Homo sapiens: one gene and its partner. The protein of the gene in region 2 purifies or fractionates together with the protein of the main gene of each other region. This does not show direct contact. Each region holds a gene or a part of one and is shown on either strand. Other genes may lie near its edges.

Region 1 (4,085 bases), on a different chromosome or scaffold from region 2:
TCATTTTTTTTTTACAATTGGCTGGTGTGTTCATTTTAAAATAATGTAATTATTAACTTTGATACTACTTGAAGTGCCCACACAGAGATGTAAAAACATAAAAATGGCTGAAAAAAATAGAGACGGAAAATACTGTTTTAGGGTGAGTGTGGGATGGTTAAAATACACATGAAACCTAACACACTTTACATGTTTAGACCATATAGTTTAGGATATAAACTTGTATTCTGTATACCTTATAAAATTCAGTGCTTCTTTAAAATTAAAAAGTGTAGTGCTTAAGGTCATCATTACAAATGTTCTGAGAGAATTTCTAAGTGTTTGACTTAGGTAAAAAATGAAGTTATAATCTTCTGAAATTAAAAGCAATAATATCTAGTTCTTGTTTTTTTTGTTTTGTTTTGTTTTGTTTTTTTTCCCTGAAATAGGCAGAAAGTTTAATGAAAAAAGTCTCATATGTAGAAAAAGTTAATCCCTTGAGCTAGCTTGTAGATTCTACCACATTTGTGTATGTTTGGGACCCTTGGCCTTGCCTTTTTTTTTTTTTTTTTTTTTTTTGAGTTGGAAAGTCTTGCTCTGTCCCACCGGCTGGAGTGCAGTGGCACGATCTCGGCTCACTGCAATCACTGCCTCCCAGGTTCAAGCAATTCTCCTGCCTCAGCCTCCCAGGTAGCTGGGATTACAGGCACATGCCACTACACCTGGCTAATTTTTGTATTTTTAGTAGAGATGGGGTTTTGCCATGTTGGCCAGGGTGGCCTTGAACTCCTGACCTCAAGTGATCCTCCCACCTTGGCCTCCCAAAGTGCTGGGATTACAGGCGTGAGCCACCATGCCTGGCACCGGCCCGGCCTTCTTTTCTTCCCATGGCTACCTTTATGCAGCCTGTAGCTATTTCTAGTATTGGGTGTGGGGGTGATGTGGTTTGTTAACCAGAGTCTGTAAGGCTTAGAATTCCACAAACTTTATTACTCTGCTAATGGATCATAGGCAGGGCATCCCTTTGTGTCCTCCAGTCAGTCACGAGACTTCAGGGGAAGAACTGAAAATTTGTGGACCTTTGTGGTAGTATTTATACCTTCTGAACCAGGGGCATCCAATCTTTGGCTTCCCTGGGCCACATTGGAAGAAGAATTGTCTTGGGGCACACAGAAAATACACTAACACTAATGATAGCTGATGAGCTAAGGGAAAAAAAAATTGCAAAAAAAATCTCTTTATGTTTTAAGAAAGTTTACGAATTTATATTGGGCCGTGGGTTGGTCAAGCTTGTTCTAAAGCTTTGTTTACCTAGGACCATGTGGAGAAACTGGAGTTTAGATTTGGAATTGCCTTTTCTGTACTTAGCCCTAATTATTGTACCCTTTGGGTCTCCCCCAACCCCTTTTTAAAAAATAAGGTCTTTTCCTTCTGCTTTATAATTAGAGGAGGAGTTAATTTCTGAAAAGCAGTTGATTTTTATTGGGTTTATTTGGTAAGGAAATAACACTTATTCAAACTCAAGGATTTCTAAAGAGATTAACTATAGGATTCTTAAATTGATTTCAAAAGGCACTCTTATCAAGGACATTATTGGAAAGTCCTGAAGCATTTCTTTTTTTTTTTTTTTTTTTTGAGATGGGAGTCTTGCTCTGTCACCCGGGCTGGAGTGTAGTGGTGGGATCTCGGCTCACTGCAATCTCCGCCTCCCGGGTTCAAGCAATTTTCCTGCCTCAGCCTCCCGAGTAGCTGGGACTACAGGCACACGCCGCCACGCCCGGCTAATTTTTTTGTATTTTAGTAGAGACGGGGTTTCACCATGTTGCCCAGGCTGGTGGTGAACTTCTGAGCTCAGGCAATCTGCCTGCCTTGGCCTCCCAAAGTGCTGGGATTACAGGCGTGAGCCTCCGCACTTGGCCAGTCCTGAGGCATTTCTGGACTTCATTCAGTTTTATTTCATTTTGACCTTTGTTGTTGTTATTATTACTTGAAGACAGCAGCTCCAGATCATTTTTACATATTTTGTAACTACTTTTACTTAGCGGGTATTTAGGTTGTTGTTGAAAAGAGTTGCATATACAATTTTAGCGATATGTGAATAATCAGTTCCATGGTCCTCCATGCTGGTGTCATGTTATTTACATTGCTCGAGAGAAATACTGCTGTGTTCTGTATGACTTCACATACTGTAATGGTAGTGTTCTCTACAGTTCTTAATTTATTTTAATTCAGTGCACATTTATTAAGCACTGCCTGTGGCATACAAAGATGAACACGTCACACACGGTCTCTGCCCTCTAGGTGCACTTACTGAGTACTCCTATTTTATTGTTTCTGTTAGGTTTTATTACAGAGTCTCATTCTCTTGCCCCCCACATTTATACATCTGTAAATTCTGTAAGAAGCAGTGCTCTATTGATTTCTTTTTTCCTGCACTGATTCTGCTTTCCTTTTTACTGGGATCCTAAAAATAGATTTTTCTGAGAAGATCTGCTAAGTGTACAGTATGAGTGCTAGGTAAATAGTATGAGAGTCTTTGGAATTTAAGATTGTTTCATGATATTTTATACAATTAAGAAAAGTTGTTTTCAGTAGTGTTCCAGAACAATATATTATTCTTCTAAGAGATTCATTGATTCTCCACACCCCTCGTATTTCAGTATCATTTGGTCTATAAACTAATCTATTGACAAGAGTTGTATATTCATTGCTTACATTATCAAATTGTGTGAGGATATGGATTAAACAACCTTTGTTAAGGTACTGATGTCTGTAGAAACAGTAGTATGTTAGAATTTCAAAAATACCGGGAAAAATAGTTTGCACTTTGTCCCTCATGGCTGTCTGTGTTGCAGGTGAATTGTTAATATCTGTCAGATTTTTTTTTATTTTTTATTTTAACTTTTTACATATTTTTGTTGAACTTTTTTTTAATCTTAATAGCTTTTGGGGTACAAGTGGTTTTTTTGGTTACATGGATTAATTGTAGATTGTCAGAATCTGAGATTTTAGTGCATCCATCACCTGAGTAGTGTACATTGTACCCAATCTATAGTTTTTACCCCTTACCCCACCCCACTCCCCCTTCTGAGTCCCATAGTCCATTATACCACTCTGTATGCCTTTGCGTGCCCATAGCTTAGCCCCTGCTTACAAGTGAGAACATACAGTGTTAGCTTTTCTATTCCTGGGTTACTTCATTTAGAATAGTGGCCTCCAGTTCCATCCAAGTTGCTGTAAAAGACATTATTTCATTCCTTTTTTTGGGTGAGAACTATTCCATCATGTATAAATACCACATTTTCTTTACCCACTTGTTGGTCGATGGGCACTTAGGTTGGTTCCATATCTTTGCAGTTGTGAATTGTACAGTTAGATGCTTCTTAGGTTCAAAATATTTCAGTATTCTGGAATATTTGGAAATACAGCATATTATTCTTTGGAAGGGATTTTCCTGCCACTTGTGTTTATTTCCCTTCTAAATAAGTTTAAAGTGTGGAAATGCTTTTGAGTACTAGAACTTGTACTTATTTTTGCTGAAAGACAAAGAAAAAAAGTTATATATCCAGCATATTATTAATTCTGAGCTACAGCATATGCAGATTTATAGTTGACATTTTCTTAGAGTTATTTATACAAACATTGCTTTAATACTAGAGGTCTCAAAGATTGTCCTGGTGGTTTTTGTTAAAATGTAGATTCAGATATAGTAGGTTTGTGTGGGGCCTGAAATCCTTCATTTCTAACAAGCTCCCAAATGATGCCACTGTTACTGGTCCCAGGCTACATTTTAAAAGTTTTTATTTTGACCTAATTTCAGATTACAGAAAAGTTGCACGAGTAGAGTTCTCTGATATCCTTCATCCAGACTCCCTGAATGTTAACATTTTGTTAAATTAATTTTTTCTCTTTGTCTCTCTTCTTTCTCCCTTTCTCCCTTTAGTGTATATTTTTCTGAACTGTTTAAGCATGCAAAATACTTCTTGGTCCCTAGTTTAATATGTATTTCCAGAAATAAGAGCATTCTCACATAACCACACTGCAATTATTAAAATCAAGAAATTAACATTGATAGACTATTATTACCTAATCTTAGTCCTATTCAT
Region 2 (4,085 bases):
CAGAGCAACACGCTGACTCTGGAGGGGGAGAAAAAAGATGCTCTAGACTCATCTTTTATATTTTGCCCCCGTCCTAGTTTCAGATATTTCTGCCAAAAGCTCTAGTTCCTTTTTTTGGAGAATGGTTTCAGCAACCAAGATATGGGCTTTAGATATGCTTGCGTTATGGAGGTATCAGCTGACAGAGCATAGGAATCTATGTGTGTATAGATTTTATACACATCTATTTATAAATATATCTCTATGTAACCATCAGTATTTGTATTAAGCTAAATATACTGATGCCCCCAACTCTATTCTATTACCATGTGAATCATTCCAGCCCTCTCCCCACATTTGCTTATCTGTAAATTCCCTCTCCAACAGTGAGAGACACACTTTCTTTTAATAGCCCCTAGGTTTTGCCCTATTTCTGTCTGCCACAAGGCCTTTACCTATGTTCTTCCTTCTGTCTGGAGTGCCCTTTCTTCCTCATTGCACAGTTTACTTGTACACAGCTTAAGTATCACTTAGGAAGACTTTCCTAACTTTCCCAATCCCCACTCCACTCTTAAGGTTGTATTGCACCATGTAAGTCTCCTTTCTAGCACTTACTGCTGGAGTCACCATTTTACATTTATTTGTGTGATTATGTGCACATGCATGATATCCATGAAGTTCAGAGCTGGACCTACTGTGTTTATTGTCATAGCCCCAGCATCTTGCACAGTGCCTGGACCATAGTAGATAATAAATGTTTCTTGAATTAGTTAATTCAAGTCAGGAAAAAGACAAGGTTGTGACCATCACTGCTACTATTCAGATTTGAACAGGAAAAAATTCACCACGGCAATGAAGCAATAAAAAGCAAAAGGTATAAAAATTGGAAAGGTAAAGATTAAATACTATAATTCACAGACGATTTGATTTAGAAAATCCAAGAGAAAAATCTAAGAAAAACTGATAAATTACTAAAGGAGTATAGCAACTTGACATGCAAAAGCCAATTTTCAACACATTGGCAATAAGCAATTCAAATGTAATATAAAAAACCTCAATCAAAATAGCAACAAAATCTGTAATGACTAGGATTAAGTGGAACAGGAAATATGTAAGACCTTTATGTACTGAAGTACGTAAGGAGAAAGTTGTATCATATTCATGGATCAAAACACTTACTATTGTAAAGAGGTCCATTGTCCTCAAATTAATCTATAAATTCATTGAAATCCTGGTCAAAATCCCAACAGGTTTTTCATGGAACTTGACAAACTTATCTTGAAACTCTTAGGGAGGCATAGATAGGCAAAAAACAGACAAGAACTTTTTGGTAAATAAGAATAGTAAAGGAGAGTGTTCCCTACCAGTTATGGCCACATCCTAAAGTGAGAGTAAATAAGGCAGGACTCAGCCGGGCGCGGTGGCTCACGCCTGTAATCCCAGCACTTTGGGAGGCCGAGGCGGGCGGATCACAAGGTCAGGAGATCAAGACCATCCTGGCGAACACGGTGAAACCCTGTCTCTACTAAAAATACAAAAAATTAGCCGGGCGTGGTGGCTGGCGCCTATAGACCCAGCTACTTGGGAGGCTGAGACAGGAGGATGGCGTGAACCCGGGAGGCGGAGCTTGCAGTGAGCCAAGATTGCGCCACTGCACTCCAGCCTGGGCGACAGAGCGAGACTCCGTCTCAGAAAAAAAAAAAAAATTCAGGACTCTACTGGCACAGCAGTGCAAATCCAGTAGGGCAGAAGAAAGTCCATGTGTGTGTTTAGTCTACCTGAAAATCTAATACGAGATAAAGAAGGCACTCAAAGAAAGTGCCAGAAAGAAACTGACCATTCAATAAATAGAACAGGAATTTTGGCTCTCCATCTTACCATTCACAAAAATAAATTCCAGATGAGTTCATTACCTAAGTTTAAAAAGTATTTATATTATTTGAATAAAATAAAGGATAAAATATTCATGACCTTTGGATTTGAAAGACCTTCTTAAGCACAGAATGCAAAAGCTGTGAAAGCCAAGCTTGATAAAGTTAATGAAAATTAAGGACTTCTATATGACAGAGGACCATTATTTAAAAATCAAAATATAAGCAGTAGACAATGAGACAACATTTGCAACATATACAACAAAGAAACAGAATAAAAGTGTTTCCATAATCTATAAGAAAAGCATAAACAATTCAACTGGTAAACCTGTGAATAGTTAATTCATAGAAGAAAAAAAATGACCAATAAATATTTTTTAAATGCTCAACTTCACTAGTAAAAAGAGAAAATGTAAATTAGAGTGGGACATCGTTTTCACTTATCGGATTGACAAAAATTTAAAAGATTGATAATATCAAACATTGCTTAGGGTATAGGAAAACAGGTACTGTCATGTACTGTAGGTGCGGAAGCTTTGCAGGTCATTTTCCATCATCATTTAAAATTAAAAATTGGTATATTGAATTACTGGAACTCTTACCATTGTTGGTGAGAATAAAATCGAACAATCACTTTGCAAAACTGTGCCATTTAGAAGTTTCTTAAAATGTTAAATGAGCACTTATCTTAGGACCTAGCAATTTCTCTCTTAGGTGTTTATCCAAAGGGAAAATGAAAGCATGCTCATTAAAAGCCTTGTATAAAATGTTCATAACATTTCTAAATAATAGCCCCTATTTGGGAAGAGCTCAAGTGTCCATCAACAGATGAATGGATAAACAAATTATGGTATATCTCTACAATGGACTACTACTCAGCCATGAGAGGGAGCAGACTACTGGTACAGGCCACAGCAAGGCTGAATCTCAAAACACTATGCTGAGTGAAAGAAACCACACATGAAGGAGTACACACTGTATGATCCCATCGATATGAGGTTCCAAAATAGACAGAACTAATATGTGGTGATAGAAACCAGGGCAGTGCTTGATTCCAAGAGCAGATTGACCGAGTAGGTGCATGAAGGAACTTTTGGGGATGCTGAAATTGTTATCATGAAATGTATGTAAGTTACATGGTGTATACATGTCAAAACAGATCAAACTATCTATTTCACTTTTGTGTGTTATATTTCAATAAAACTAAAGAAATATTTTCATGAAAATCCCCCATGCCCCAACATATTCATTTCTAGTGTCAATTCCTTTCCTTTCACTTCTGATATCTACCCTAGCCTAGCAGAGTATTCACGCATGCACTCCAGGAAGCATGCTAACAAGGAATTCACTGAAACTTTGTGTAACAGTGAAGTATTGACAGCAACTCAACATCTATCAATATGAGATTATTAAATAAGCTCCAATATATTGCACTATTAATACTGTATAGCAGTTAGAGCTCTATCTACTGTCACAGGGAGCTCTCTCCAACCTATCATTAAGAGATGAAAGCAGAATAAAATGTGCACCATGGTGCCAATTTTAGGGGGAAAAATGATTTCTGTAAGTACATGTAATCTCTATAAAGACATAGAAAAACAACTGGGAGAAAACAAACCAATTAGTAACAGTAGTTCCTCTTGAGGGAGGTACCTGGGATTGGGGGTTGAGAGAGGACTAGAGATGTTCACCTTTTTTTTTTTTTTTTTAACAATGGAAACATATTTATGATTTTTTGGTCAAATAAGATTTTTAGTTGTTTAAGAGAAAATGTTGAATTGTGTTAGATTCCGTCAGAAAATGTACGCACTGGTGTCTGAAAGAGGTAAAAGCTGGGACTTCCCCTTTTTTTTCAGGTCGCACAGTACTTGCTTGACAAAGACCTTATCATAGATGAAGATACGCTATATGAGCTGTCACTAAAAATTGAACCTCGACTCCCTGCTTGAAGATCTGGCCTTGCCCCTGAGTCCACGGGATGTTCATGGAAAGCAGGACAGACAGAATTGTGTATGCCTTGCCTATCACGGTACAGCACGAAGCCAGGCTCCTTTCTCCACCAAAGAAGATGGAACCAGACTGGAATTCTGTCTCCAGAGAGAAACCCAGCTGTTTGGGTCAAAGACAGATGCTTCAGACTTGGGTGGGAAGGTGAAAGATGGCTATTTAGAAAGCTGGTGGCACGTTTTACATAAGGGAATGTCAGATGGGAGATGCTAGTTGCCATTTTAACAA

The links.
Region 1: the proteins of RASGRF2 (region 2) and RSL24D1 purify together in Homo sapiens (affinity purification with mass spectrometry; one large-scale study listed by BioGRID and IntAct). This does not show direct contact.

The regions. Positions count from the first base shown.
Region 1 is NC_000015.10:55,186,723-55,190,807, reverse strand, and holds part of RSL24D1 (probable ribosome biogenesis protein RLP24), read left to right. Parts: intron 1-4,085. UniProt on the Homo sapiens protein: Involved in the biogenesis of the 60S ribosomal subunit. Ensures the docking of GTPBP4/NOG1 to pre-60S particles.
Region 2 is NC_000005.10:81,221,972-81,226,056, forward strand, and holds part of RASGRF2 (ras-specific guanine nucleotide-releasing factor 2), read left to right. Parts: intron 1-3,706; coding exon 3,707-3,799; 3' UTR 3,800-4,085.